Linked DNA regions of Homo sapiens: regions 1 and 3 are each linked to region 2. Evidence: fine-mapped expression QTL. A gene starts in region 2. Each other region holds a variant in brackets. All regions are shown on one strand. Distances are between the middles of the regions.

Region 1 (10,582 bases), 30 kb after region 2:
CAGACTTACTGTGGATAACATGATTTGGGATGATTTTATCTGCAAATAAAATACAGAATCCAAACAGAATCACATCAACCTTTAAACTCAGCGGCACTGCCCCCAAACTTTCAGCTTCAGGATTGGAATGGAAGTCTGACTGAGGGACAGTTTCCTATGTTGCCCCAGAATATTCTCCCGTGGCTCCCACCTTATATACTCCACAGCCTCCCGAGTGCAAAGCACAGTCCCTGGCCTATGGCATGCACCCAGTATGCCACATGGATGTGCAAAGAAGGAATGGAATTTCTCTTTTCAAATATCTACGTGACCAGGCACCTGCTCTGCTTTTCTTTCAGATCTTCCCAGACCCGTCAGATTTTGACCGCTGCTGCAAACTGAAGGACCGTCTGCCCTCCATAGTGGTGGAACCCACAGAAGGGGAGGTGGAGAGCGGGGAGCTCCGGTGGCCCCCTGAGGAGTTCCTGGTCCAGGAGGATGAGCAAGATAACTGCGAAGAGACAGCGAAAGAAAATAAAGAGCAGTAGAGTCCCTGTGGACTCCCATGGGTCATACCAGCCAGCATCTGTTCCTGAACTGTGTTTTTCCCATCATGACGGAAGAAGAGAGTGAGCCGCAATTGTTCTGAAAATGTCAAACGAGGCTTCTGTTTTGCACCTGCAGATCACCGAGTTGGTTTTCTTTTCTTTTCTTGCCTTTTTTTTTTTTTGAAATTTGCCGAGCAGTGGAGCCCTCTGACAATTTGCAAGGCCCTCTGAGAAAGGAAGCTGCTTAGAGCCAGGGGGTTAGTGGGTGAGGGGAGCGAGTGCTGTTTTTGAGATCATTATCTGAACTCAGGCAGCCTAGTAGAGGCAGTGGTGGGATTCCAATGGGTCTTGGTGGGTGGGAGGTGGGGCATGTGCAAAGCAAGCAAGGAACATTTGGGGTAAGAAAACAAACATGAGGCAAAAGAAAAAATACATGTTTTTAAGAAAACATTGAGCAGAGAACTGCAGCCAGGATGCGCTCAGCAGACATTCACTCTGGCTGCTGGGACATCAGAAAACAAAGTCTTCATCTCTCTCTCCAGTTTCACCCACCCCACCCTTTGCTTTCATTTCAGGTGTGTTGGTCTATATGACAGGGAGGAGAGTAAAGGAGAGCAGGAGCAATTGGCTGCCTGCAAAGCCAGCTGGAGGTGAAGTGCAGGAAAGGAAAGGTCACCCCATTCTACTCCATGGCCTCTCTGCTCCCAGCTGTGGTAGGCTCACATAGCCAGTGTGATCGGTTTTTAAGAGGCAGTGCTTTTCAGCTTTTCTCCCTGATATATCCATTTTGCTTCCCAGCACTTTTTAGGAGTAGTGAGAGCACTTCCTGCCCTTGTTGGAAGCCCCAGGGTGGACACTCAGCACGAAGGTCTCTCCCTTAACTGCTGCCCTTCCAAGACTTGCTCCCGAGATGGAGTGGGCGTGGTCTTCCAGGCTGGCCCTTCCTTCTCCTCACCGCCACCTTCCCTGCCCCAGCCCCAGCAGCCATGGGTACATGGGTCCCCAGCTCACCTATGGATTCCCGCCAGTCTGCCCAGCTGCAGTACTCACGCCCCATGGGGGATCTTGGTCTGTTTTTCTTGTGGGAGCCTAGTGGAGAGCAGACGTGGCTTTTTATGTGTCTTGTTGGGGAGGTGACTTGCATGGTGGGGACAAGGCTGTCGTGGCAACCTTGGGATCGAGTTTGAGACTAAAGGATGTCATGAGATCCCTGGCTTCTCCCCATGTTGTTCCCGGACAAGGGCAGAAGGGAGGCATGGCAAGGGACCTCTGCTGTCCTTACTCAACAGTGGTCCTCATCCCTCCCCACCTCCCACTGCTTCCTGCAAGGGCACCAGTTGTATGAGAAAGTTGGCCTTTGGACTTAGGATTTCTTATTGTAGCTAAGAGCCATCTGAAGCAGCAGGTTGCAGGACAAATGCTTCAGTCCGCCGAGAGCAGTACCGTGTGGCCAAGAGGTGGACTCAGAGCCTTCCTTGAGCTAAACTCGGCCAACCAAGGCACGCAGCATGTCCCCTCAGGTCTCCAGTCAGTCCAGGTTGACCCTCAGTTCTGGACGTGTGTATATAGCTGTATTTAATACCTCAAGGTCATTGTGGCTCTGGGGATGCCGGGGCAGGAGGACGAGGGTGCGCTGTGGACACAGCAGTCCGCGGAATTCCGTTCTGGGAAGCCAATGGTCGCCGGCACCCCTTGCTTCCTCCCTCTGTTGTCTGCCTGTGTGACACACATCAATGGCAATAACTTCTTCCAACTCCTCGCAGAAGTGGGAGAGGCCGGCAGCCTGCACCGAGAGGG[G/A]CTTTCCTCTCTCTTGCTCCCCGCTTCGTTCTGTTTTGGCTGCAGAGAGTGGTTCATCCATACTCTCATTCCCTCGCCTCCCCTTGTGGACGGGGGTCTTGCCTTTTCAATTCCTGTGTTTTGGTGTCTTCCCTTATCTGCTACCCTGAATCACCTGTCCTGGTCTTGCTGTGTGATGGGAACATGCTTGTAAACTGCGTAACAAATCTACTTTGTGTATGTGTCTGTTTATGGGGGTGGTTTATTATTTTTGCTGGTCCCTAGACCACTTTGTATGACCGTTTGCAGTCTGAGCAGGCCAGGGGCTGACAGCTAATGTCAGGACCCTCAGCGGTGGAGCCTGCTGGGGGGACCCAGCTGCTCTTGGACAAGTGGCTGAGCTCCTATCTGGCCTCCTCTTTTTTTTTTTTTCAAGTAATTTGTGTGTATTTCTAACTGATTGTATTGAAAAAATTCCTAGTATTTCAGTAAAAATGCCTGTTGTGAGATGAACCTCCTGTAACTTCTATCTGTTCTTTTTTGAGGCTCAGGGAGAAACTAGCATTTTTTTTTTTCCAAACTACTTTTTGTCACTGTGACAGTTGTAAATAAAGTTTGAAAATGCTTTCCACTCTGGTCTGGTTTCCTTTTTCCCTTCCTGTTCCGTTGGAATGGAGTGAGCTCAGGAGCAAGAAGAAGTCCTGCAGGAGGCTGAGCTGGGGGAGTCCCAAGAGAGGCTCCTTATGTAGCTCACCTGATGGCTTGTCTGGGGAGAATTCACTGGGGAGATTTAACCCACAGCCAAGGTGTGAACTACCCTTCTAAAGGAAGAAAAACCCAAGACATATCTGAAGGTCATTCACAGGGGCTGGAGGGTGAGTGGGTGGGCATGTGGCAAGCTCAGGCTATCATGCAAAGCATTTACTGAGCACCTACTGCTTGGCAGGCATTAGTAAGAGGTCAAGGTCACAAATGGCAATGGCCCTGGTTCTCATGGCCCTGCCTTGGTGAAAAATTAAATGACGAATATGGTGAGTGCAAGGCAGGATCAAACTGGGATGCCCTGAGTGTGAACATCAGTTGGGAGGGTCAGGAAGGTCTTTGGAAGCAGTGACAAGGAGAAGTTAGCCAGGTACTAGGTGGCAGGGAGCAGAGGGGAGTTGGGGGCATTGGAAAATGATTCCAACAGGGAGAACAGCTTGGCAAGGGCTTGGCGGGTGGAGTGGTAGAAGAGGAAAGCATGCAAGAGGGCTACTCAGTCCTGGCTAGGAGTTTGGATTTTATTCTAAGGGAAGGACCTAGCATGGTCTGTTTCACATTTTAATACAACCTGGCTCAATGGAGATGGGATTGGAGGGGGCAAGATGAAAAACCTAGAGACCAGGAAGGAGGCTTTGTGGAGGTCAGAGTGAGAGAATGGTGGTTTGTAGAAGGGATTTGGGGGCATTTTTCTAACCCAAGGCTATTTTTGCCTTCACCCAGCCCTCCTCCGGGTTCCTTAACCTTGGTAAGTGTAGAGAATCCAGTGGTTTGTGCTGAAGGTGTCTACCAGGATTTACAGAATAATGACCCATTTTAACACTAGCCTTAGTGAAACAACTAGATCTATGGATCTGCTGCCCCAAGGATAACTGGCCGGACTTTACCCTCCTCATATGGATTGCCCCTTTATTTTTCTCCAGCAGCCTGAAGAGGAATTTATTAGAATGCAGCCTCCTTGAACACACCCCTGCAGAAAACTGTCTTTATTTGCAGATGACATCATCTGTGTAGGAAATCCTATGAAATCTACACAAAAAAGCTACTAGAACTAATAAATGAGTTTAACATGGTTGCAGGATCAAAGCTCAATATTCAAAATGACTGCATTTCTATATGTTGGTAACACCGACAAAAAAAACAAACACTGCATGTTCTCACTCATAAGTGGGAGTTGAACAAAGAACACATGGACACAGGGAGGGGAACATCACACACTGGGGCCTGTCGGGGGGTGGGGGGTAAGGGGAAGGAGAGCATTAGGACAAATACCTAATGCATGCAGGGCTTAAAACCTAGATGACGGGTTGACAGGTGCAGCAAACCACCATGGCACATGTATACCTATGTAACAGACCTGCACATTCTGCACATGTATCCCAGAACTCAAAAAAAAAAAAAAAATAACAGAACCTTGACATTTAAAATGCAATTTACATTAACATAAAAAAATATAAACTATTTAGGAGTAACTCTGATGCAAAATATGCAAAACCTCCAAAACAATGAAAACTGCAAAACACTGCTGAGAGAAATCGAAGAATCCCTACATCAATGAAAGCTCTACCATGTTCATGGATCTGAAGACTCAATGTTAAAATGTCAATTCTCTCCAAATTGATCTATAGACTCAACACAATCAAAACCTCAGCAAGCTGTTTTGTAGACATTGATGATCTAATTCTGAAACTCCTATGGAAATGGAAAGAACCCAGACTAGCCAAAACAACTTTGAAAAAGGAAACTAAAGTTGGAGGACTCTCAGTTCTCAGTTTCAAAAACTTAATACAAAGCTACAGTCATCAAAACAGTGTGGTGTTGGCATCAAGATTGACAAATAGATCAGTGGAACAGAATAGAGTCCAGAAATAGACCCACAGATGTGTGGTTAATAGATTTTTGACAAAGGTGCCAAGGCAGCTCAGTGGAGGAAGGAAGTCTTTTCAACAAGTGGTACTGGAACAATTGGATATCCATAGGAAAATAGCCCCTGGTGATGAAAGATGAGTCTTCACTTCTGTCTCCCACTGCCTCCATGTGACTTTTAAACAAAATAATTATTTGTTTGGAAAAAAGTTTCGTTATTCTTTTTCATGGTTAGCCAGTTGCTTCAATACCCTCCTGCTTCACCCCAAGTTGCCTCCTCTTCCCTGAAGGAGAAGGATTGGGTGACACCTGGCTGACTTTGCTGTGTTATTCGAGCTGACTTGCATTCGAGTCCTGTGCAGCCCCTCCATAGGTGCTGTGGGGCCATTTTGTTAATGTCTAGGATCCTCAGTGTTCTTGTCTGTAAAATGGATATAAGACTAATAACTCCCGCATAGGGGTGTGCAGATTGAGCACCCAGTAGGTGTTCCACAAGTCAGGATATTTTCTGTCTCTCTTTTGAGGGCCTAGTTGCTAAGGAACTAACTCTGCCTTCTCTCTGCTGCTTTTTGCTTTGGGTCCTTTGTGGACACCAGATACAAAGGTAGCTTCAAAGTGAAGACAAGATTCAACTCCTTCTGTCTGCCTCCTTTTCTTCATCACCTTGAGAGGGGAAAGGCAAGGAGAAGGGAACTGTAATGCCTCTGCCCACCAAAGATTGGAGAGGGAAGAGAGGGAGGTCTCTCATCAGAGAGGGTCTATACCTCTGCCTGACTCCTCTTTAAAGAGAGGATCCTTGGGCAGAAAACTCTTTGAAATGACAGTTGAGCTTTGACTAGACTGGGAAGAGATTCTAGGTGAGGAGACAGCAAGTGCAAAGGCCCTGGGGTAGAGATTGTCTCCATCTTTTTGAGGAATGTCTATGAAGCTAGTATGTCTGGAGTAGAGAAAAAGAGAAAGCTGAGAGCAAACACCACAGAGCAGTGCCTCATGGGTCCTCATGAAGGTGAGTTTCAGAATCACTGGTGCCCATTGTGAGAAGCCTTCAGGGAAGGACACAGGCTCACCAGGCATCCCAGCCCCTGAAATCCATTGGTCAGCCCATTTAAAGTTGCCCAACTGGTGGCCTACGGCAATCGATGTTGAGGGACCTGAGGCACTGTCACATCCGGAAAGGACTTCTGGATCATCAGAGGAGGATTAGATTAGGTAGAATTCAGTCTGTACATCTGTCCTTAAATTACTGAAGGGTGATTGTCGCTAAGAGCATTGGCTCCGAGATCAGACCCCTGGATCTGTAGCTGAGCCCTTCCTCTTACTAGTTGTGTGACCTTGAGCAAGTTACTTTTCTTTTCTATGCCTCACTTTCCTCATTTGTACAACGAGTACCTAACTCATAGGGTTGTGGCGACACCTAAATGCATATTACAAGTAACATGCTTGGAACTTTGCTAGACACATAATAAGTGCTCAAGAAATGTTAACCATTGTGAGGCCGGCCACGATGGCTCAAGTCTCTAATCCCAGCACTTTGAGAGGCTGAGCCGGGCGGATCACCTGAGGTCAGGAGTTCCAGACCAGCCTGACCAACATGGAGAAACCCCATCTCTACTAAAAATACAAAATTAGCCAGGTGTGGTGGTGCATGCCTGTAATCCCAGCTACTCGGGAGGCTGAGGCAGGAGAATCACTTGAACCCGGGAGGCGGAGGTTGTGGTGAGCCAAGATCGTGTCATTGCACTCCAGCCTGGGCAACAAGAATGAAACTCCATCTCAAAAAAAAAAGAAAAAAGAAAAGAAAAAGAAATGTTGGCTGGGCACAGTGGCTCACGCCTGTAATCTCAGCACTTTGGGAGGCCGAGGTGGGCGGATCACGAGGTCAGAAGATCGAGACCATCCTGGCTAACGCGGTGAAACCCCATCTCTACTAAAAATACAAAAAATTAGCCGGGCGGGGTGGCAGGTGCCTGTAGTCCCAGCTACTCGGGAGGCTGAGGCAGGAGAATGGCGAGAACCCGGGAGGCAGAGCTTGCAATGAGCCGAGATCATGCCACTGCACTCCAGCCTGGGCGACAGAGTGAGACTCCATCTCAAAAAAAAAAAAAAAAGAAAGAAATGTTAGCCATTGTGGGAGACAGAATAATGTCTTCCACCCCCACAGATGTCCATGTCCTCATCTGAGGAACTGTGAATATGTAATGTTACATGGCAAAGGGGAATGAAGTTTGCCAATCAGCTGACCTTGGCTTGGGGAGATCCTGGATTATATTTGAGCCCAATCTAATCACAAAGGTCCCCATAATGAAAGAAGGGGGCAGGAGAGTGAGTCAGAGAGATGTGAAGATGAAATGCTGCTGGCTTTGAAGACAGAGAAAGAGGCTGCCAGTCAAGGAATGCGGGCACCTCTAGAAACGGCAAAAGGCAAGGCCATGATTCTCCCTAGAGCCTCCAGAGGAATGGAGCCCTGCCAACACTTTGATTTTATCCTAGTAACAGCTATTTTGGACTTCTGACCTCCAGAACTGTAAGATAATAAATTTGTTGTAAACCACTAGGTTTGTGGTAATTTGCTAACAGCTACAATAGGAAGCAAATGCAGCCTTTATCATCACAACTGTGATAATGATGATGATAGACTTTTCCCGCATGGCCTCAGAGAACAGGGATGAGGGAGTGAATGGAAGGGGTTGCAGTCAGGCTAAAGCCACCATCCAGCAGTTGGAGCCCACAGCTTCCTAAGGATCAGTCTTCTCTTGGCGCCACTAGCTAGAGGTATCTCTCAGACGGAGGGAGCCATGACTGACCTAGGACTAGATAAATTTGAGGCTATAGATCCCTTCTTCTAGAATTTCAAAAATTAGTGATTTGTGTGTGATATGATCATCAGTATAGTCTTGAATCAGAATATTCATTAGACTACTCCCTTCTCTCTGTTTACCTGGATAAAAGGTCCTACTTTGACATGCAATTCATTTGCAATATTTCCTTTGCCGTTTTCAGTCAGAAAACTGTGAATTCACACTTTTCTATTATTGGCGGCTGCCAATTGCAGAGCACTGGTTTACCTCCATTTCTTCTAATTCTCATCACACTTCTTGCAAAGTGTGGGTTTTCGTATATATAATGAAAAGTATATTTAGCACAAAGTACATTTAGCAATGATGGAAATTATAAAAGATGGTGAAATTTAGGGACTTCATCTTTCAAATCCCATCATGGTAACATATCAGTTATTTGCATTTTGGTTTCCTTCCAGTCATTGTTCCCCCATACTTACCAGAATGGGCTCAATGAATATAAATTTTTCCTACAAAATGGACATTTTTAATGTTACTTTACAGATGAGGAAGCTGAGGTCAGAGGACTTCAAAATATACTGACTTTGGAAAACAGTAGAATTAGAACAAATGGTGTGCTGGTAAATGTGTAACAACCAGCCCTCTGAGATTTAAAAAAAAAAAAAAAAAAAAAAAGGCCCTGATTCATAGTGTTTGCCAATTTCCATGGTGTAAATGCTCCCACCATGGCTGATTTTGTGGGACTGGATGAGATGGGAGCCAGTGCAAGCCTGCAGCAGCACACCTCTGGAATCCCTGATCCTCCACTTCTATGCTAGAAGGAAATGGGCTCAGCCTGCCTGAGCCTCAGTCTCCTTTTCAAGAAGATGGATATCACTCAAAACCAGGACAGTGCCTAATTCACAGGGACTCAATAAACTCTAGTGCCCGTCCTCCATTTGGAAAAGAGAAATCATTCTGGAAAGTTATCTGGCACAGTATTTTTCAAGCTAAATCATGACTCATTATGGGGTTGTGAAAGTAATCCATTTGTGGGCTGCAACCAGAATTTTTTAAAAAAGAAAGAAAACAAATAGAAAAGACGACAATAGAAGAGGAAAAATCAGAGTACAGCAGATATAGGAAGAATAAATGTTATTCCCTGAATTTTTTTTGTTTCATCCCTACATGTGGATAAATGTGTGTACTTGGTCATGAAAAAAAATATTTTTCTTTCTGTGGGTCACAGTCAAAACAGTTTGAGAGCCACTGATCTGGGGAATCTGGCTTTCTAGAAAGCAGTACTTTTACTTAGTGGAGTCATGGCAGTGGGAGAGAGGCAACTAGAAAAAGTAGCTTAATACATCTCTCTGCAGAGGAAATGGGGCTGGCACACCCAAGGGTGGAGACTGTGTGGTCAGTGTGTAGGGGACAAGCCTGGGAAGGCCACTATGTCCTTGGTCTCCTCCAAGGCCAGGATTAGGCTCTGGGTAGCCTTCAAATCGCTGCCGAGCCCTGGAGGAGGGAGGAACTGTGCATGGGGAAGGAGGCGGAAGCTACACAGGAAACCCTCACTGCATGTTTGTCACTGCTGGCACCCACTGCAGCAGCTAGCAGACAACCAACAATAGTGACATCAGGTAAAAAATAACCCACAGGGTCCCAGCCCTACCGTGCAGGGGCAAGGGCATGCCGTCTAGAGGGCTGCAGTGTCACCAGGCTACAGCTGGGGTCATGCTGCCTGGCGCCATGCTGTGCCTTGATTTCCTGATTGCTAATTAGAGGGCACTTTTCCTGCCCAAGGTCACTTGGGCTGGCGCCAGCAATGGGGCCACTTGCCTGCAGAGTTTTTCCTCCCCCGATCTCTTGCACAAGGTGGTATTTAAAAAATCACTCATGCCAAGACCTTCAGGTCTGAATGCACCACCTCTCCCAGGGGGACTCTCATCTTAAAAGAAGGCCCCAGCAGTTCTTACCCAAAGGATTGTCCCAGGCAGGGCCTGTGCAGAAAGCCCCAGCAGCCTTACAAGCCTCTCCTTTGGCTACGGTAGGCTATGACCCCAGGCCCTGTGCTGACCCAAAAGCACTTCCCGCTGTTCTCCAAACCTTTCTCTCCAGACCAAAGACACAGGCTCCCCATGGTTCCCCAGCACTGCCAGCTGGTACATGCTCCCACACACCAGTGAAGGGTGTGGAAGGCAGAGCTACATCAGATGTTACCGTATTAGGCCATTCTTGCATTGCTGTAAAGAAATACCTGAGACTGGATAATTTATAAAGCAACGAAATTTTAATTGGCTCACGGTTCTGCAGGCTGTACAGGCATGGTGCTGATATCTGCTTGGCTTCTGTGGAGGCCTCAGGGAGCTTTCACTCTTGGCAGAAGGCAAAGCAGAAGCTTGCACGTCACGTGGTGAAAGAGAAGCGAGAGAAAGCAAGGGGATGGGAGAGGTGCCACACACTTAACCTGATCTTGCAGGAACTCACTCACTATGGCGAGGACAGCACCAAGCCATTAGGGATCCGCCCCTGTGACCTCCCACTAGGCCCCGCCTCCAACACTGGGGATTACATTTCAACATGGGATTTGGGCGGGGACAAATATCCAACTCTATCATTTACTTGACTACAACAAAGCGTGTTGAGGATTAGCAGCCAGCTCTGACACATAGGAACTAGGGTCCCCTGTTTGCTTCTGACCTCACAGTTTGCTGGTTAATCATCTAGTTTCAGCCTGGTTCTCAACCTCCCTTGCCTATCCTAAGAGCACCCACGTCCCTCAAGAATGAACAATATTCACAAGGACTTTCCACTCGACAGTTTACAAAGCTCAGTTCTTATCTTCCATCCACCTACACAGCATTTCTTAACCTCGGG
Region 2 (10,582 bases):
TCTCCTGGGTTCAAGCGATTCTTCTGCCTCTCAGCCTCCCAAGTAGTTGGGGTTACAGACACCCACTACAACGCCTGGCTAATTTCTGTATTTTTAGTAGAGGTGGCGTTTTACCATGTTGGCCAGGCTGGTCTCGAACTCCTGACCTCAAGTGATCTGCCCACCTAGGCCTCCCAAACTGCTGGGATTATAGGCATGAGCCACCGCACCCTGCCCAGAGTCACATTTTGGTTCAGCCATTTGAGAGCCACGTGGCCACGGCCAAGGTAGTTAACTTATCAGAGCTTCTGTTTCTTTGTCTATGAAGTGGGGGCAATCTGCCTCTGTCTAAGATTGTTGTCAGGCATAAGTGTAGTAAGAAATACCAGGGTATCTCAGCAAGTGTGGCCCCTTCCCTTCTTCTATTTTCCTCCCCAGGGTCAAATAGCTACTTTGTAAGGTCCCTTATTAGTAACCAAAATACCAGCTTCACCATCATTAGGCAAAATAAATGCAATACTGTCTTTTTGCAAGCCAGAGGGAGATAAGAAGTGGGAATGTGTTGCTTAATGATCTTTTTCTTTGAGACAGGGTCTTGCTCTGTTGCCCAGGCTGGAGTGCAGTGACGTGATCATGGCTCACTACAACCTCTGCCTCCGGGGGCTCAAGCGATCCTCCCACCTCAGCCTCCTGAGAAGCTGGGACTACAAGTGTGCGCTGCCATGCCCGGCTAATTTTTTAGTTTTTGTAGAGTCAGGGTTGCACCGTGTTGCCCAGGCTGGTCTCAAACTCCTGAGCTCAAGCAATCCTTCTGCCTCAGCCCCCTGAAGTGCTGAGATTATAGGTATGACCCACTGCACCCGGCTGCTAAATGAATTTATATGGAGACTTTTTTTTTAACTAGATGAATGAACTCGCTACCTGTCCTGCATACACAGCATCCTTGCAGCTGAGATAACTCTAATAATATCTTAAGCTCATTACCTTTATTTTTTTTTTAATTTGTATTTTAGGTAGGTAAGAGAAGGTGCTGGCAAAATGGATGTATGTAATGTCAGAAAGCAAGGCAATTCTGATTACACCTGGATTCTATTGAAGCAGAATTGCAATTCAACTCTTTAGTCTCCAAAGACAAAGACGGGAGAAGGGAGGGAGTGCAGAGGCTCTGACTGGGTAATTAGTTCACTGATCTGCATCTAGTAGATGTTCAATAAATGTTGGTGATGGACTGTGGTGGTTTACAGAGTCCAGACGTTGTGTTTGACCTTTGCTGCTGACTTCTTGGCAAATGCAGTGCAAGACGCAGTGTTAAAGTGGAAAGAACATCTGACCAGCAGTCTGAAGACCTGCGTTAGGTTCCATCTATACCACTTAATAGCCTGGTGACCTTGGACATGCCATTTAATCTCTTAGGTGTCTTCTCACCTGTAAAACGAGGAGACTGGGACAAGGTGATTTGGAAGGTCTCGTTCAGCTCTAAGGTTCTGGGGCTCTAAGTAACTTCATTCGCTTGTGTTTCTGTTTCTTCATTTATTCAAAGGCAGTAGGGACAGAAACCTATCTCATAGGATATTGGGAAGAAATGGTCAGTGTGCATGTTGAAATACTCTGTATCTTTAGAGATATGAAGGAAAGGCAGTCAGCCAGAGCTATGTTAACAGAAGGGGAAGCTGAGTATGCCTACAACCTCTGAGTTCCAGGCCCAGCTCAACCACTTTCCGGCTGTGTGATCTTTGGCAAGCCTCCTAATTTATTTCGGCCTCAGTTTACATATCTGTGAACTGAGGACCATAAGTTGTGCTATGTTAACCTTATCACATTCTTTTGAAAGCCAAGACAATGAAATGCTTCAAAAAAAAAAAAAAAACCTGCAAGGCATCATATAGACTAGTATAACTGAGAAATGGCATGCTAGTTATGGTTGCATCAAAGCTTAGCCCCACGCCTCCCATATTTTATTTTATTTATTTTATTTTATTTTATTTTATTTTTTTGAGACGGAGTCACACTTTTGTTGCCCAGGCTGGAGTGCACAATTTCGGCCTACTGCAACCTCTGCCTCCCAGGTTCAAGCGATTCTCCTGCCTCAGACTCCCAAGTAGCTGGGATTATAGGCACCCACTACCACGCCCAGCTAATTTTTGTATTTTTAGTAGAGACGGGGTTTCACCGTGTTGGTCAGATTGGTCTTGAGCTCCTGACCTCAGGTGATCCACCTGCCTCAGCCTCCCAAAGTGCTGGGATTACCAGGCGTGAGCCACCGCACCCAGCCACCTCCCATATTTTCAAATGAATGGATGTGTCACTGTGATTCCAGAGGAGAAACAGAAAATGCAGACTGGGGATCACAACCCCAGGCTTATTTCTATTTTAACTTACTGACAGAGATGAACTTTAGCTAAAATGGGCATTAATAAGTTTCCCAAAGAGTAGGCCTCAGGTAATTCCCTCAATGCACTCCAATGTAGAGGATTTTTCCAGAGGCCAGATAACAGCTGGTGGAGGCCTTACTCCCCACCCTCTTCTCCAAAATGAGGCCATTTTGACATTTAGATATTTGGGAAAATGGGGAGGGAGGGAAATAGCTTTCTGAGTTTTGAAAGCTTCACATGGCAATAATCACAAACACATAAAGTGTGTCTGTTATGTGTAAAAGTGGCGCAACAGTCTTTGATCCCAGCCTCACCAGAGATTGCTACTGGGAAGAAGTGGCAGAAGGCTTCATCCTGCCCACCCGGGGTCTAGCCCAGACATTTTCCTCTGAGTGCCTGGAAGTCTCAGCCTGGAAACTAGCTCTCCAAGCATTGGCGTCTCCTGTGGCTGCCTAGATGACAATGTGCCACACCTGGCTAGTGACACTGAGAAGCTTCCCCACCCTCTGTGCAGGACATCAACAATAACCCCATCCCTGCAGCATCTCCCGTTTAGCCCCTCCATCAGGCAACACCCCCAGAGGAAGAGAATGCGTTTAGCTTGGGAGGTGGGGGAATTTCTCTGGTTGGAGGGGGCAGCCAGGGGCTTGTCATGAAGCTGTGTTTTCATAGGAAGCACACTATTTTAACTCAGGTTGTACATATAAGCATATAAGTGATTGAAAATAGCCCAGTTATTTTTAAATAAATTATTCTCATCAATTCTTATAATTTTTGTTTGGGCTGGTTTTGCGGGGACTGATGAAAATTATGAGGGTCTTCTCTCACGGCTTCCTTCAGGGTCCTACCCCTGTCGAACCTTCGCCATTAATTCTGTCATCCTTTTGCCTGAGATAAGCTATGCGTTTCCACTTTCAAGTACATATATACGGATTCAATACACTCACTGCCTTTCTTTTAAAAAGCTGATTCACTTCAAAGCCAATTTAATTTTGCTTAGTTTTTGATCTCCCCGCGCCCCCTTTCCTCAGCCCCTATACACAGGTAGGTGAGGGTTCTAAAGCCATTTTACAGGCGTGATTGAAGCGGAGGCCACAGAGCGGCAGCGCTGGGTCCCGAGTGAGACTCCCATCATGTGGCTCTGGGGGGCTGCGCAGCTTTGACTGCCTGGACAGACGCCCAGAGCTGCAATTCCTGGGCAGTGTGGGAGGCGTTCGGCTAAAGCTCTTTGTTTCTGCTGTCATGAGCGACTCCTCGGAGAAGACGTGGGAGTCAAGGATGGGGGGCGGCGTGCACACCGCCCGCCCACACCTTCTGCCCCCGCTGCAGACCGGGCGTATGTGTGTCTCCAATGGAAAAATCCTACCCAGGACGACACCACATCCTTGCTCCCACAAATAAAACCTTCCACGGAACTCAGGGCTGCAGACCAGCCCTTCGCAAGCCAACGCGCCCCGTGGGCACTCGGTCCCCCGGCTCCGCGTCTCTGCCACCTTCCCACCGCTTCTTCTTTAACCATGCTCTTGTTTCCCCTCGCTGATCGCAAGGCTGCGGGCGAGGATTCCAGAGAGAGGCCTAGTATGGGGAACAAACGCTTCAGAGGGGTCCGAGGTGGGCTGGGGACAGCCAGTGGATGGGAAGGAGGGCGCTGGCGCCGGGCGGCTGGGGTGGAGGAGTGGCGGGTGCCCTACCCCGGCGCAGAGCAGCCGCCGAGCTGTCATGTCCCGAGCGGCCCCCGCGCCCTCCTTGCGCCCACCTCCGCCGCGCTGGAGTTCGGGGTGTGCGTGGAGGGGGCTGTGAGCGGGAAGCGGCGCGGACGCGGAGTCCGGGCCGGTGCGAGTGAGCGCGTGTGCGCGTGGGAGAGCGGCGGGAGGGGGCCGGGCTCGCAGCCGCAGCGAACCACGGCCCCGGGAGCAGAGCCGAGCGCGCCCCCGAGCCGCCGCCCGCCGGAGCTGCGAGCGCTGAAGCCATTCATGATTTTGGTGACGTTATTCCAGGAGTGGGCGAGGGAGGGCGGGGCCTCTCGGGGCCAAGCCCCGCCCCCGCCCCTATAAATACGGCTTCCCGGGCTCTTTGTGGGGCTGAGTGCTCAGTGGAGAGCGGGGAGTTGTGTCCACCTTGCCGACGTCGCTAGCCGTGGGGCTGTCCTGGGAAGGCGGACGGCGAGCGCCCGGTGTCCGCACTCGGCCGCCTGCCGTGCCCGTCTGCGCCCGTGTCATCCTCACTCGGGACGCAGGGACCGTTTTTAAATCACAGGGGCGTGTGTCAGCCTGCCCTAGGACTTCATGTCTATATATTTCCCCATTCACTGGTGAGTACCCTGCGCCTGCGGCGGGCGTCTGTCTCGCGGCGGTGGCTGCGGGCCCGGGCGCCTGCTTCGTGCCGGCTCCGGGTGCGAGGGCAGCCGGCGGCGCGGGCGCTCAGCGCTAACCCGCCGCCCGAGCCCGTGCAGGAGTCAACGTCAAGGTTGCAAAGGTGGGGGTGGGGGGAGGGGGTGCTGAGAACATCCAGACAAAGGACGTGAACTCGGAGCCCTCACCTAAGTGACGGCCGGAGGGTTTGTATTGGTTGGCGGGGGAGCCAGGGGTCACGTGTGAATCCCCCCCAATGAAACCACCCTATGCGGAGAGCTGCAGGAGGCGCGCGCCCCACTTGGCGCAGGGGGGCTCCTGCTCTTCCCGGGCCCCTCCTCTTTTTCTTTTTGTTTGCATGCAAGTCTCAACGTCGAGGCCGGCAGCAGCGGGGCTGAGCTGGTGCGGCCGCAGGGTTTGCAGAGCTCCGGGGGGGTGGGGGGCGGGAAACGCTCTCCCCACACGTAACCCCACTAAAGCCACAAGCAGCAGGGCACGCGCTGCAGCCTCTCAACCCCTGCCCTCTCCACCGCCCCTAAAAACCGACGCACATTGGTGGGGGCCGGGACTGGGAGGAGCCGCCTTCGCCGTGCTGAAGGGGAAGGAGCCCGGGCCGGGCGCGGGGCGTCGGAGGTTTGCCCCGGACTGGGGATCGGAGCCGGGAGGGATGCAGAGAGAGGCAGGCCCCTGACTGCTGGGACTTCCTTGCTGGCAGTTTCTTCCTTCCTGCTCTGGGTTAGAGGAGAAGCGGCCGGGGGCGAGCGCCGGCAGCCCCGGAGCGCGCTCTCAGGTGCGGACGTGGGGAGCTCGGCCCCGAGTCTCCGGCAGGCGCTGAGCGAAGGGAAAACCGGCGCAAGCCGCGGCGGGGTCCGGCCTGGCCCAAGAAGCGGAAAGTTCATGCTTCTCGCTTCAACTTTTCGGGCCGGCGCCACAGCCCCGAGCGAGGAAGAGCCGCCCCTACGTCAGACTCTTCACCCTGCGTGCGCTCTTCTGGCTCCTTTCTTTGGAGGTCGCCAGCAGCCTTTCCAAGACCCGGGAGGAAACTGCCTTTGCAGGGCCCAGCTCCCGAACCTAAACTTGCCGCAAAGCCCCGCATCTTCTGTTAGTCTCCCTGCCCCCATCCGTCCCAGCCTGGCAGTGTTTAGAGAGGGGACTGAACTTCCCTCTCTCAACAGTTCAAGTTCCCCCACCCCGAGGCTTGTGTACCCTTCTTGTGGGTGCCCCTCCCTTGCCTCTCCCGTGGTGTGTGAGCAGCTAGGTGCCTTATTATAGGTGAAGCTTTGAAGGCTGTTGGAGGCTTTGTGCCTTTGGCTGCTCAAAATTTGCCAAGGTGGGTGTTTGGACCCATTAAGAATATTATGAGAAATTAAGGTTTAAGTTTATTTCATCGATTAGCACTTTGCAGCTTGCAATGCTTTTATGCAGACATTAGCCCTTAACCTAACTGTGAGGTATGCACTATTAGCATCAGAGTAACAGACAAACAGGACACTTGTGGCTCAGAGAAGTTACAGGACCTGTTCAAGATCACACAGTTCTTGAGGGGCAGAGCCTAGAACCTATTGCTTCTGTTTCTAAATCCAGTGTCATTTCTTATCTATGTAGTAACCATACAATTGAAGAGGCATCTGGTACCCCTGTTTCCTTAGATACTGTCCCTCAAAAGACTCCCCCATATTTTTGTTTTAAACCATGTGCACAGGCACGATGGTGGAAAGCATTGGGTGCTGTGTAGCAGGTACCTGTATTTGGTGCTTATGTTCAGCATTATGTGCACGGGATCCTGTATGTGCCCAGAGTTTGTGCAAGGATAAGGGAATATTCGTATCCTGCTTAGAGAGTACAAGGCACTTTCACATGTCAGCCATTGGTGGGCCAGCTTGGCCCCTCTGGAAATTTCCTTTGCAGTCAGAGTCGGGTATCCTTAAGGCTTTTAATCCAGGGGATGTTTTTCAAGCTGTGAGCATGCAGCTGCTGTGTCTGGGGCTAGAGAAAGGGGATGGATGGCAGATGTGAAACTTGCAGAAAAGCTGACCCCTTGGGGCTTTAAGTGGAACATTTTGCCAAAAGGAGCACCAGAGAGACAAATTTAGGAAAGCTGTATGATTGGACTTTGTTTCCCTCCAGTTGACCTGTTATTGTTATTGTGTATTAATAATATATAGAGTTCCCCTTTGGAAAGTTCATGTGAGGATTATTTTTATTCTTAGTTGGAGAAGTGAAGGGAGATGTGGTTGAATTGGTTTTAATATAGACAGATGGACTCAGCTACCTACTGTTTTGGTTTCTCTGGTTCTGTCATTTAAAGAAACATTCAGGGTCCCTCTGTGCCAGTGGGGACTAGAGTACAGGAGAGGAGGGAAGAGGTTTGCCAGAGAGGTCTGCAGACAATGGGCTTTGTCTGTTGCGGCTGAGCCCTGGGGCTGTGGGCTTGCAAGGCGCTTCCTCAGGGTGTGAGCTTGTTTTGCTGCAAGTTCTGTTTTGAACACCTCTCTTCCTGTCTCCAGACAGTCCCCTGATCCCACAGCAGTGAATGCATGAAGAGTTAGGAATGTGAAAGCGCGTGTGTTTGTTGACTTTTGGTCTGGGTTTCTTGGCAGCCCCGACTATCTGAGATCGGCCAAGATGACTGAGGTGATGATGAACACCCAGCCCATGGAGGAGATCGGCCTCAGCCCCCGCAAGGATGGCCTTTCCTACCAGGTGAGTAAGTCCTGGCTCCCCTCTGACTCTCTAGAGCCTAGTGGTTTTTGCTGGGGGTGAGGACAGACTTGGTTTTGCATCCCAGTGCCACATATAAGAGCTGTGGGACTGTGGCAGAGTCCCCTAATGCCAGTAAGCCTCAGTTTCTTCATCTGTAAAATGGGGCAACAATCGTCCTTATCTCCTAAGATTGTGGTAAAGATTCACCATGACAAGTGGATGTGTAGGAAGCATTCCTAGTGTCTGGGACAGATAAGGGCTCAGCAAGCATTAGCCATTGTGATGAATTGACCCTACTGGCTCTGTGAACTTTGCCATTCACCGCAGCAAAGGAGGAAATGATTTGTTTAGTCGATTGAGACCAGAACTTTCCTTCCCAGCCATGCCTGGGGTAGTAGAAGCATTGCTGTCGGGGGCTTCTGCAGAAGGGTGGTCTGGTGGGGATAGCCATGTCCAATGCTGCTTTCTTCCTTGGGTTGATTATTGACCTGTTGATTCAGAGTTAACATTCAAACCACTTAGAGAGGAAGATATTTTCCCCAAAGGGAGGCTAGCTCAGGGATGCTATTGCTGGGATCTTGCTTGGAGATCATCCTGTCTGGTGGATCCAAAATGCACAAGGATCACAAAAAGGGACCAGAGTGAGCCCTCTGGACTCTTACCCCAGCCCTCTCTCTGGCTTGCCCTGCTGCCTCTCTACTGCCCCTGGGTTGGGGGTGGGAGCAATGGAGCACCTGCAGTTCCCTCTGGGCTGTGAGCTGGTTTGGGGTTTTGGAGGAGAGTTCCTATGTTGTTAAACTGGGGGGAGGGAGGAGTCTCTTCTTAAGGAAGACCTTGGAGCTAGGGAAGTTGTGTAGGATGGCCAGCCCAGGGAAGTCGAAAGGGAGTGTGATGGGTCCATGGGTCCGTGCTACAGACATGAAGGTATGCCCACTGCACGCCAAGCACTCTACAGACGCTGCCTTGCTCACATCTTACCACAGCTCCCAGGCGGGGATCCTCACCCTGTTCACAGATGAGGAAATGGCTCAGCCTGAGTCAGTGACTTGGGTCTGTCTAACCCCAGAGCCTTGTTCTTCTGATGTATTGTGTGTCCACACCATGGCTTGGTTCCGCTAGGGTCTAGGTTGACTCTGGCTGGTCATTCCTTAGAACTGTTCCAGGGACATTTATTTTGTAAATTAAAAAAAAAAAAAAATCAAATAGAAAGCCAGGGAGCCAGGGTGGGTGCCATGGAGGGAAAGTAATCAGATAGAACCAAGCTAAAAGTTCAGGCAGGGTCACTTAACTTCAGACATGCTTGGGAGGCTAAGGAGGCCCCTTTGTGTTGTCTATATTGGCAGGCCTGTCTTGAAATAAGTAGCCATTAGCTTGAAGGGGGTGTGTGGAGCAAGGGGGAACTCTCTTTGCTACGTTTGACTTTTCTACCCTCCTCCCCCAGAGTGGGTCTGAGGAAGACAATTGAGGGCCCCTCAACCTGGTGGGAGGGGTAGAAGTTTCCTGGCCCACCAGCCAGGGGGTTTTGGGTAGCAGTTTCCAAGCCCCTGAGTCAGAATGAATCTCTTTGTGGTTACAGGTGAGGTTCTCTTTCGGTTCTGGGTTTTAGATTTCCATCACAGAACCTTTCCAAATGCAGTCATCTGTTCATCTTGTGTGTGCTTTTCATATTTTCCTTTTAAATACATCCCAGGATAAAGGGCCAGGCCCTATAGGGCCGTTTTCTCAATGCTTCGAGTCCTTCAGGCCATTCTGCTGGACCTGAGACTCAGGGCAGGTGGTGAGGGAGGAAGGAGCTGGGGGAGGAAGGCCAACCTGGGGCTGCAAGGGCAGCAGGAAAATAAAATCACCTCTGGGTGCCTGACACATCTCAGCACTGCCTGAGCAAAGGATCCACACATCTTCCCTTGTGGTGCTGGACTGAGGGCCCAGTTCTCAGAGCCCCCTCCCAGGAAATCTGTTTCTGCTACCTTGGTGGGGACCACTCCCCAGTTCCAAAATATCTTACTTGGAACTTCAGAGCACTCTGGTCACAATTTTTCACAGCTTTTCTGATTTCAGAAAGGTCTCTTGGTTGCCTGGTGAAGAGGAAAGGGAGATTGTAGTATTTAACCAAGCAACATTTAGGGGCACTTTCCCTGTGCAACCTGCTGTGCTGGCCTCTGTGCCCAGGGTCCAGGGCCCTTGTAAGAACCCAGCATCTACATAAACATCTGGAACACAGGTGGTGCAGTCAGTCCAGGTGGGGGACATACAGAAGCTACAGTGAGTCCAGGCATCGACAGCAACAATGAAATCCAGCCGACAGAATCAGAGGGAGGGCAGACTGGGGCTGGGCTCTGAAAGAAAATTAGGACTTTGAGAGGGCAGTTCCATCTCTAAGGTAATGTTCTTGCACCTTCAGATACCCCTGGGCTTGCCCCTGTTTATGCCAGGGGCAGGGCTGTGCAGTGAGCTGGTCTGACCATTGCGGTGTGACAGATATTCTCCGGGCCCACTCAAAGCTAGTGCCGTCCAATTAGACACATTCCCACCAGAGCTCTGGGGATTGGCTGGGACTGGCACTTGGCTGGAGCCCCTTCCCTTTGCATGCTCAGGCTCGGCTCAGGCCTGGGGGCAGGGGATCTCGGAGCTCTGTTCTTGGCATTCCTCCTAAGGATAATAATAGTACGTGGCTTTTACTGAGACCTGCTTTTCTAAGGAACTGAGAGTGGGAAGGAGACATCAATCCAGACTTGGCAGATGAAATAGGATCTCAGGCTTGTGATTTGACCTTGAAAGAAAGTCATCAAGTAAATGGCACATTGGACTTTGTCAGTCACTTCACTGCCTTGCAGATCTATCGAGAGTGAAGCTTTCCTGATTTCTCTGTACCAGCTGTGACGTTTCTTTTAATGCCTGTGGCATTTTGTACTTGCCAATGATGCCGCTTCGAGGATACGGGTCCTGTTTTACCTTCTCTTTGCCCAGGTCCTTGAAGGCAAGGGAGGACTTATCTTCATCTTTGTACCCTGCCCCCACCCAAGGTGCCTAAGTGCTAAAAGTGGGTGGTGGTTGTTTCCATGAAGTTGAGTCTCCTGATTCTAAAGCTGGTCACCTTCTCTTCTGCCTTAGCTTCTGGAAAGGGCCTCCTCACGCTCATGCCTACCAAGGTTTCAGATAGATGCCCTTTTAATCCCC
Region 3 (10,582 bases), 18 kb after region 2:
TAAAAACTTTCAAACATAAAAATATATTACATCAAGAAAAAATTCTGTGGAGAAGTAGAATGGAAATACAGTTTTACATAGAGAAAGTAAGAATACAAGATTTGACTTAAGAGCTTGTTCTTGAGTTTTTTAATAGGTCATGGTTGCCGTCAAATTCTTATGGTATTTGTAATCCATTTAGTACATTTAAAAGAGTGGTATGTATATTTTATTTTAAAATGTCAATATGTATAATATATCAGGGATTTTAGAACATGTGAAAGGAGACAGAGTTGTTCAGAATTCCACTGGGGACTACACTAGAAGTTCGGAAACCATGGATACGTACACTTTCTTCAGAATCAAAGCGATGGCACTGTAGGTCCTCAGAGGGGAGGGCAGCTTTGAGCTTGGTCCTATCACCTTGATAAGGAATGTCCTCTACAGTAGCCTGACATCGGGTTACCTAGATATTCTTTGGACACTGTGACACAGAGTCCAGAACCTCTCAGCACAGAGGGATTACAGACTTAAGAATCCGGATAACTGGTTTCTAATCTTGGCTTTGCTGCTACCTATGTCATCTCAGGCAACTCACATCACCTATTTGGGCCTGATTTCCATGTGTATAAGTGAGAGAACTAATCCTTATTGTGTTTTTTAAAAGTCGAATAATGACATGAAATCCACCATCCTAATCCTAAGATGTGCCCGTTGGAGTTTAAAAAACAAAAGCAACAACAAAAACCTGTTCTTTCCCTACCTATCAGCCTTTCAGATATCAGAAGGCACCTTTTATGTTCCCCTCAAATCTTTACCAGTTTTAAAATATGTTGTTTTTCAACCTTGACTTACATAGTCTTTTTTTTTTTTTTTTCCCTTGAGACACAATCTCACTCCGTCACCCAGGATGCAGTGGTGCCATCCCAGCTCACTGCAACCTCCGCCTTCCGGGTTCAAGGGATTCTCATGCCTCAGCCTCCCAAGTAGCTGGAATCACAGGCGTGCACCACCACGCCTGGCTAATTTTTGTGTTTTTAGTAGAAATGAGGTTTTGCCATGTTGGCCAGGCTGGTCTCAAACTCTTGACCTCAAGTGATCTGCCCGCCTTACCTCCTAAAGTGCTGGGATTATAGGCGTGAGCCACTGCACCTGGCCCATAGTCATCTTACTGAGGATTATTTCTCCAGGCCAACTATTCTCAAACCTTTTGGTCTCGGTCCCTTTCACACTCTTAAAACTTATTTTAGGACTACCCAAAGAGCTTCTGTTCATGATTATGTCTTTTGTTTTGATTATGTCTTTTGATATTTACTGTTTCAGAAATTAGAACAATTTTCAAAATTTTTACTTATTCATTTAGAGTAACAAAACTGTTACATGTTAATGTAAATAACAGTTTTTAGTAAAAAATATATTTTCCAAAACAGAAAATGTTTAATGAGAGGAGAGGCATTGTTTTACGTTTTTGCATGGCTGTTTAAAGTCTAGTTTAATAGAAGACTAGGCTAGACTCTCATGTGCTTCTCCAGTCAATCTGTTGCAGTATGTGTTGGTTGTTGGTTGAAGTCAATGAAGGATATCTAGCCTATGCAGATTTGTTTCTTTGGTACTTCACTAGTTTTTTTCCTCTTTCTTTCTCTCTTTCTCTTTTTTCCTTCCTTCTTTCTCTTTCTTTCTTTCTTTTTCTTTCCTTCCTCACTCACTCCCTCCCTCCCTCCCTCCCTCCTTTCTTTCTTTCTTTCAGCGTTTTGCTCTGTCACCCAGGCTAGAGTGCAGTGGCATGGTCATAGCTCACTGCAGCCTCCAACTCCTGGACTCAAGTGATCCTCCTGCCTCAGCCTCCCCAAGTCCCTATGACTATAGATATGTGCCACCATGCCTGGCTATTTTTTTTTAATTGTAGAGATGGGGTCTCACTATGTTGCCCAGGCTTGTCTTGAAATCCCGGCCTCCAGCAGTCCTCCCACCTCAGCCTCCCAAAGTGCTGGGATTATAGACATGAAACACTGTGCCCAGCCAACAAGTGGTAGTTTCTTAAATGTTAGTGGCAATGTGATATCTGACATCTTATCAATGACCTTTTTGTACACTAAAATTCATTAGTCTATTTTGCACTTTGAGTGCATCTTTTACCCATGCTTAGTGTAATGTTCTGATCATTTGGAAAATATAGGTTCACCAAGTTATGCAGGTCTTCAAAATGTTGACTCATTTCATTATACAATATCATAAAATCACATTTCTTAATGTCTCTACTGATCTCAAGCATTAGGAAGCTGTCAGGCTCATGGTGGCTGATACAACTTTTTCAAAATTCTAATTTTCACTTGAAAGCTCTATTTTTATCATTGGTGACAAATACTGTTATTTTCCTTGAAGTGACAGGCTCACTTTGTCACTTTGTCCATTTTTGAGAAAATGCCTGCCAAATACCCAAGTTGGAATAACTACAATTTGTTGGTCATTCTTTCAAGTAAGAATGGTGCTCCGTGGCATGAGCGGCTAGTTCAGCTGGCAACTCTGTCACATGACTGCTTTCCTCAAGACAGCTGTTGTACTTCCGTCAGCAGCAGAAATGTTGTAGGCTAACTGTCCATTTCACTGTGCCACATACATAAGTGACATGTGGTTGAGTCAATATTTAATATAAATTACTTTTTACCACTTCATCAAGGGCATTAATTTTTTTTGTTTGCTTGCTTTCGTTTTAATCGTGAGGGTGAGCTGGCGAACAATTGATGATGCCAAGTATGGTTTGCTGCCACTATGTTAATTCTCGCCAAGGTGCCAGCAGTTTCTTCCACTGTTGCTTTCTATACCCTTAGTGCAAGTGTTAACACTGAAAAAGGCAAACGACATCTTAGTATTACTATGAAAATATGTTACCTCTGTGGAGGCTCCCTCACTGAAAGGATCTTGGCAGTTGAGCTTGGAGAATGGCTGCCCTAGGCTAAATAGAATATGCCTGATGAGAGGGTAGCAGGTCCATCAGCTCTCTGTTAGTGTAGATGGTTTCATTGAAAGGCATATACCTCTAGGAATATAGCCCTATTTGCTTCAGTTGTTAGCCTCAATGCTGCAGTTGTGATCAACTAAAATCTCCAAGCTTCTTTTATGGGAGCTACTATCAAGGAAGACGTCTTGCGTGGGGCAAAAAAATTTTTTGTGGAGGACAAAGTGAGTCGTCCTGGTAGTGCACTGTAGAATGGGTAGAGACGGAATGAAAGTGGAGTAAAGGCCGTGGGGCAGGGCTGCAAGGAAGGCCTTCGAGATTTGTTTCCATCCAGGGATGTTTTTGGAAGCTACGTGGTGGGGGTTAGGAAGGGAACCCAAACAAGAAATGGAAGGCAATGGGACAGGCTAAATATTCAAGATTTGTGTTTCCAAAAAAAGAATGCGGGGATAGTTAGAAATGGCAGCTGAGAGAGGTGTGACCATGGGACATTGGGTAGTACTAGTGGAGGGAGGATAGAGAGACGGATGTGCCACCCACAGATGCCTGGAGGTGACAGGGGGCCAGTCTTCTTTCCAGAAGGTAATGATGATACAGTCAAAAAGTCGTGAATATTTGAAGTCATCTGTGCCTGATAACAAGTCTTTTCTCACTGCCCCGGAGAAAAAAGTTCTCTAACATTCCAAAAGCCTCCTCATTCCACTGGGCCCAGAGTTAGCAGTAGAAATTAGTGCAATTAATTAGAATTTGGAACTCCTGACTCGCAGGATGGGTGTGTGTTTGAGAGATGTTTATGAAAGATGGTGTTTATCCAAAGGATTTCCTTTTCTTTTAAGTTTCAAGGCTGGAGGCTTAAGCATCTTTGATCCAAAGGAAGGAGGTCTAGCAGTTGTTATAAGCCCCAAATCTTTGCTTAAGTCCTCTATAGGATTAGAGGCACCAGGGCAAGGCAGAACAGAGTGAGGTGGATGTTCTGTAACCCCAGTCCAGGGGAGATTTAAGGAAGATGAGAGTCTTAAAGATGGACAGTCTCTGAGTAGAGACTGGAGAATATTCTTCCTTCCCTGCATCTAGTTAGTAGCCCTGCTGCCCCTTTGCTACAATTCTTTCTGTTCTTATTAGCCACATTTCACGTGGAAAAGCCAGTAAAATGCAAATAATAATAATGATGATAATAAAATAGCAGGAGGCAAGTATTTCAAAGACGGAATTTCTTGCCTTCACACATTGTTAGGGGGCAAAGAACAGGTGGGTTTTTTATTTGAATTAGCTGCTGCTTGTTCATTCATCCCTTGGCAGAGCAGGATGCTGGTAGAGATCTGCCCATTGTTATAAGCCAGCCCATCGTAGGAAGGAAGGAACACACAAGGCAATTCATTGTTGTTCTCCAGGAGAAGTAAGAAATCCAGACGTTGGGAAGCTGAGGGGCAGGCCCCTGGAGTAAGTGAAAGGAGGAGGTAGAAGAAGAGGAAGGCCTCTGGTTGGGGGCGGGGTAGTGACAAGGGCATGGTTTTCATTCCCCCGGTCCTAACCCACGCCCTGGGGAAACAGAGCCACAGGGAGGGAAGTGATGAATGAAGTTGCAGCCATTTCTCCTAAGAACTCGGCCTAGGATTTGTGGGCACAAGCCCAGGAGTGCTGCGTATTTGCTCCTGTCCCAAGCCACAGCTGTTGACCCCTTGGTTCCTCACTCTAAATGCTGCTGGGGGACCCCAGCTTTACCTAGTAAGAACCATCATTAGGAAGGTAGAGTTTACAGGGCATGTTCACACATACCTGTGTTTGATTCTCTCCAAAGCCCTGCAAGATCAGCATTAGCACTGACCCAAATTATAGAGGAGTAGAGGAGGAGAATAGGCCACCGCTTCGATGAGCCTGTCAGGCACTGTGCTGGCTCTCAAGGCACAGCACTGTGACCTTGCCAACCATACCGTAAAGTGGAAATGATTTTCTCATTTTACTCGGGAGGCAGCTGAGGCTCAGAGGCGATAAAATGACGTGACCAGGGTCATAGCGATAATAAAAGATGGAGGCGAGGAAAAAGCCAGATCCTTCGGACTCTGTGGTCTGCCTGTGGGAAGAGCAATTTTCCTGAGCGGGTTTGGGCTGATTGTTCTTACTTCTCTGCAACAAGAGAGGGTAGAAGCTTACTGTGTGGTTTTGTCCACAGTGCCTTAGGGAGCTAGCCTGGTTATGTATCTCAGGCTCGCTCCCCTCCCTCTCCACCCCCGGCCTTCCTCTTTCCTCTTTCCACCTTTGCAAAAAAGAGCAAGATGTCCAGGCTCCTGAGGTCTCAGCTTGCAGAGCTGGTCATTAGCCCTTTGTGTCCTGCTAACCACCTTTCATCTCCTCTACCTGCTGGTGTCCGCTTTCCCTATTAGCATCTCTCGGCTCTTTGCAGAGCCCTCGGCCTCTTTGTGGCCAGCTTGGGTTGTTTGTCAGATGATGGCTGAGAGATGCACACTCAGGGGAGGGTGGCTCTGACCAGGAGCGCTCACATTTTCCATGCCAGGTGCCAGGCATCTCTCTCCTCTCCCACCCCAGGGGCAGCCAGGTTTAGGTCACCTGGCATGGAGGCAGACAGTTGATAGCCCGGTCCCTAAATTTGGGGCCTTTGAAGCCCTGGTGTTGCCTTTCAGTTCCCCTCCAAGGGTGAAATGGGAACTGGCTCACCGGCAACTTTTATGCCTAAGCAAGAAGCCTGCTGAGGAATTCCTGGTCTCCAGAAGCTCACCCTCAGGCCCAGGATTCTCTGGTCCAACAGCCTCCACTGTTGGTCGGTCAAACAAACGCCCTGGGATTCCCAGGAACATCCTGCTGCCTTCATCGTCCGCATACTAAATCATCAATCCAACGAGGCAGCCACTCGCCACACAGGGCCATTTAAGGTTACATTAAATTGATATTTATAGTATATAATATAAATTTCTATTAATAAAAATTAAATAAAAAATAACACTTTAGCCACCATTCTTATTTTTTATTGTCAGTAGAATTTTTTTTTTTTTTTTTTTTTTGAGAAAGGGTCTTGTTTCGTCACCCAGGCTGGAGTGCAATGGCACAATCTCTGCTCATTGCAGCCTTAACCTTCCAGGCTCAGGCAATCCTCCCACCTCAGCCCCACAAAGTGCTAGGATTACAGGCATGAGCCACCCGTGCCTGGCCAATTTTAGCCACCTTTCAAGTGCTCCATAGTCACACATGGCAAGTGGCTACTGTACTGGACAGCGCAGATAGAGAACATTTCCATATGCAGAACATTCTTTTGGACAGCACTGATCTATACAGCCAGAAATTCCAGTATCTTACAGACCATCTCTTCCTGCTACGAAGCCTTGAAGCTCCCTTGACCTTTCAAGTGAATTCATTTGAGTTCCCAAAATGCCACGGCCTGTTGGGACTGGAGGCCACCAGGCAAAGGATGCCTCCGAAGAGGTGTCCCCTGTAAAATTCACCATCACCATGGCCAGGCATGGTGGCTCATGCCTGTAATCCCAGCACTTTGGGAGGCTGAAGTGGGAGGATCACTTGATCCTGGAAGGTTGAGGCTACAGTGAGCTGAGATTGTGCCATTGCACTCTAGTCTGGGTGACAAAACAAGACCCTATCTCAAGAAAAAAAAAAAAAAAAAACTAATAAAAAATAAGAAAGGTGGCTAAAATTTTTATTTTATTTTTATTAACAGAAATTTATATGTGATATAATATAAACATCAATTTAATGTAACTTTAAATGGCCCTGTGTGGTGAGTGGCTGCTTTGTTGGATAGATGATTTAGTATGAGGATGATGAAGGCAGCAAGATGTTTCAGGGAAGCCCAGGGCGTTTGTTTGGCCGACCAACAGCAGAGGCTGTTGGAGCAGAGAATCCTGGGCCTGAGGGTGAGCTTCTGAGATGAACAATGGTGCTTACTTTTCTACACAGTGGAGAATGCAAGACCTGGGAGATTCATGGTGTGTGTAAATGTCAAGGCTTCATTCCATTTGCAAAGGATGGAACTTGGTGATATGGCTTGGCCGTGTCCCCACCCAGATCTTATCTTGAATTGTAGTTCCCATAATCCCCTTGTCTCATGGGAGGGACCTGGTAGGAGGTAATTGAATCATGGGGGCGGTTACTCTCATGCCATTCTCATCATGATAGTAAGTGAGATCTCATAAGATCAGATGGTTTTATAAGGGGCTTTTCTCCCTTTGCTCGGCACTTCTCTCTCCTGCCACCTTGTGAAGAAGGATGTGTTTGCTTCCGCTTCCACCATGATTGTAAGTTTCCTGAGGCCTTCCTAGCCATGTGGAACCGTGAGGCAATTAAACCTCTTTCCTTTAGGCCAGGTGCAGTGGCTCATGCCTGTAATCCCAGCACTTTGGGAGGCCAGGGCGGGCGGATCATGAGGTCAGGAGATTGAGACCATACTGGCTAACATGGTGAACCATCGTCTCTACTAAAAATACAAAAAATTAGCCGGGCGTGGTGGCGGGCGCCTGTCGTCGAAGCTACTCAGGAGGCTGAGGCAGGAGAATGGCGTGAACCCAGGAGGCGGAGCTTGCAGTGAGCAGAGATC[G/A]TGCCACTGCACTCCAGCCTGGGTGACAGAGCGAGACTCCGTCTCAAAAAAAAAAAAAACCTCTTTCCTTTATAAATTACCCAGTCTTGGGGATTTCTTCATAGTAGCATGAGAATGGACTAACACACTTGGTGTCCATTGGATTCATTTCAGCCATCAGCTTTGGCAGCCCAATGTGGCTGCTGGATGTGGAGTCCAGGGCTGGCAGAGGGAGGAAGGTGTAGGGCTGGGAGAATCACAGCTGGGGGTGGATTCTTCTAGACCTGCCCTACCCTGGGCTGAGGGTGAGAAATGCCTCTGAGAGCTGCAGAGAGAAGGGAAAATGATTTGTGTTTGTTTTTGCCTTTCTGTAGTACAGAGAGAAGGAGCACTTTGGGGAAAGAGGTTTAACCAGAAGCAGTTTCTTTTGGGAACAGGGGCAGTTCTTTACTCCCTGCCAGTTCCTGCAGGCAGGCAGCATGCCGGCCTGGCCTGCCGCCTCAACCCCTACCTGTCATGTGCTTGGCAAGTCTGACTCAAGTCCTTTTTTCCACTGCCTACCCCACCCGTCAAATTGCAGTTGCAACCTCTCATTTTTCTGCTGCCTAGATGATTAAAAAGCATGACTTAGTGGAAAAATGTTGACCTCCTTGGGGTCAGCCTCTGAAGCAGCTGTCAGAGATAAGATTGTGCTGGCAAATTACTCAGCAGCACTTTGCAAGGCTTTCTGTCTGTCTGTAAGGAAACCAGAAGCTGTTGGTTCTGGGTACTTTTTGTGTTTGGAGAGAGCTACAATTTTGAGGCCCAAATGGGTATAATCTGATAATAAAATAAGATCTCTGATGGAAGGGTTCGATTATTGTAGTAATTTTTAAAAATACAATTAATAGGCTTTGTAAACAAACAAACAAAAAAATTTAAACAGTGCTTGCTTCGAGCAATTCAGGGAGCAAAGTCCTCTGGCAGCTAAGCAGTATCAGAAGTTCAATTCTCAGACCTCTTGCAAGGTCTTAAAAGACTTAATTGTGGAGCTCTCGGTATGAATGGCGCTGTTTGGAATTATTTTAATTACTGTGTTCATATGACTCCCTCTTGCTTGGAGATTGGATGCTTACTGTAGTTCTTTTGAAACTGCTCCAAAGAGGACATTATAGTTTCAATTTTGCTTATGTCCTCAAAGTATTTTATCATCTTTATATTTGCCAAGAACTTGTACCCATCTAGTGAGACAAGAAGGTCACCTCATGTCTCAAAAGGAGAAACTGAGGTGTTTGGGGTTGAGAGGACTTGACCGGAGTTATACAATGGTGGTCAAGGACATAGTGAGCACCTGGGTTGTGTGGCTTAACCCATGCTATCAAGTGAACGCTTCATTTGAAGTCCTACAGGTCTGAGTTTGGATCCCAGTTCAGCTGCTTCCCAGGTGCGTGGCTTTGAGCAAGTCACATACCGTCTCTGTGCTTCAGGTTTCTTATCCACAAAATAGGGTTACAGTAGTCCCCGTTATCTCTGGGGGATACGTTCCAGGACACACAGTGGTTGCCTGAAACCACAGATAATACCAAACCCACATATGCTATGTTTTATCCTATACATCCATACCTGTGATAAAGGTTAATTTATAAATTAGACTCAATGTGAGATTAACAATGATAGCTAACAATAAAATAGAACAATTATAACACTATACTGCAACAAAAGCTATGTGAATGTGGTCTCTCTCTGTCTCTGTCTCTGTCTCACAATATCTTATTGTACCGTACCTACCTATCTTGGGATTGCAGTTGACCGTGGGTAACTGAAACCAAGAAAAGCAAAACTGTGGATAAGTTGGGGGGTGGTAACTAGAATTATTGTGAGGTTTGAGATTCTGCTCAGGAAAAATTTCATCCATCATCATCATCATTAGATTTTTTTCCTTATTTTAATGAAAGACCTGTTTCCAGCTTGAAGTGAAATCCAATGCTTCCCACCCCTCTCCTCCTCTTCGTCCTCTTCCTCCTCTCTTCCTCCTCCTCCTCCCCCTCCCCCCCTCCTCCTTTTGCTGGGCCTGCCCTGCTTGTCATGCCTTTTGCTTTTCCTTGGCTTAGGCTGTCATAGTTAGAATTGGGTTTTCACTCTCCCAGCCCTGACAATGTGGCCCTGGCACAGGTAGGCACAATCCTGGCAGTGAGGTCAGAGGGTGGAGGCAGGGCCAGGCTCTTCACAGGGCAGGTCCCCCTCTCCTCTTGACAGCTTATGGCGCTGTCTTGGATCCTGAAGGTTTAAAACAAGCATTGGGACTGGGAAGCTCACCTCCTGGGCTGGGGCCCTCACAGCTGCCTGGGCAGTGAAGGCCCAGAGTCTTACTCTCCCTCCCTGCTCAGTTTTCCATCTGTGAAATGGGGTGGAGACCCAGCAGCAGCCTAATCCATTTTCCAGAAGGCTCAGGCACTGAAAACAGCAGATGTAGGTTTGAATCCTGGCTCTGCCATGTGACCCACAGAGTCCCGGGTCTTACTATTCCTAGAGTGGCAGTGAGCCCTGAACGAGCTGACATCTGAAAGAGCTTCGTGACCTGTAGTGGGCTTCCCTCCATCGGGGTCCCTCTCACCCACTCTCAGAGCTCATGCTTGGAGGGCGCCTTGTGTCCTCACAGCCCATGGGGGGCTCTGGCCCCACCCAAGAAATGAGGACGCACCCAAAAAGCCCACGTGGCGCTCCTCGCTCGGCACATGCACGTCTGGGCACAGCGCCGTCTGAGGGCAGAACTTCTGGGCCAACCTGGTCAGGAAGACAGAGCCCAGAGTCGGGGTCCGTGTCCCCCTCTGCCTCCGTGACCCACACTGGCCCATCCCCTCCCTGGACTTGTTTTCCTCCTGGCTGCCATTATGATACCTTTTATGAGCCTCGTTAAGTCTTTAATGATGCCTGGTTGTGCAGCTGGCTTAAGGCTTAATCCCCAGCAATAGGTCTTATTGGATAAATGGTTAATAATCACTCGTTTGCAGGTATTGGGAAGGCTTCACTGAGGCCTGTGATTCCTGGAAGCCCCACGTGGCCTGTGATGTGGTGAGAGTGTGACTTGGCTGGGGCAGCACTGCATGGGGTTGGGTTGCAATAAGACC

Evidence for each region. PIP is the estimated chance that this variant, and not a neighbour inherited with it, causes the effect. A credible set is the group of variants that fine-mapping cannot tell apart.
Region 1: its variant is the best candidate, but not a certain one, in a credible set for the expression of LBH in whole blood (TOPMed, PIP 0.66).
Region 3: its variant is the best candidate, but not a certain one, in a credible set for the expression of LBH in whole blood (TOPMed, PIP 0.80).

What each region holds. Positions count from the first base shown.
Region 1 is chr2:30,257,095-30,267,676 of GRCh38, forward strand. LBH (LBH regulator of Wnt signaling pathway) reads left to right here. Exons shown (of 3, transcript NM_030915.4): 3 at 339-2,934. The coding sequence ends at 527. Among named protein-coding and RNA genes, the nearest start is that of LBH, 31 kb to the left of the region's middle. RefSeq lists enhancers at 8,896-9,510, 9,511-10,125. The variant G/A (reference allele first, on the strand shown) is at 2,325.
Region 2 is chr2:30,227,103-30,237,684 of GRCh38, forward strand. It overlaps LBH (LBH regulator of Wnt signaling pathway), which reads left to right and starts at 4,432. Exons shown (of 3, transcript NM_030915.4): 1 at 4,432-4,662; 2 at 7,303-7,405. The coding sequence starts at 4,637. RefSeq lists enhancers at 3,098-3,613, 3,614-4,128 and silencers at 3,932-4,481, 4,682-4,771, 5,162-5,361, 5,372-5,431, 9,127-9,334.
Region 3 is chr2:30,245,121-30,255,702 of GRCh38, forward strand. All of the region lies in intron 2 of LBH (LBH regulator of Wnt signaling pathway), which reads left to right. Among named protein-coding and RNA genes, the nearest start is that of LBH, 19 kb to the left of the region's middle. The variant G/A (reference allele first, on the strand shown) is at 7,497.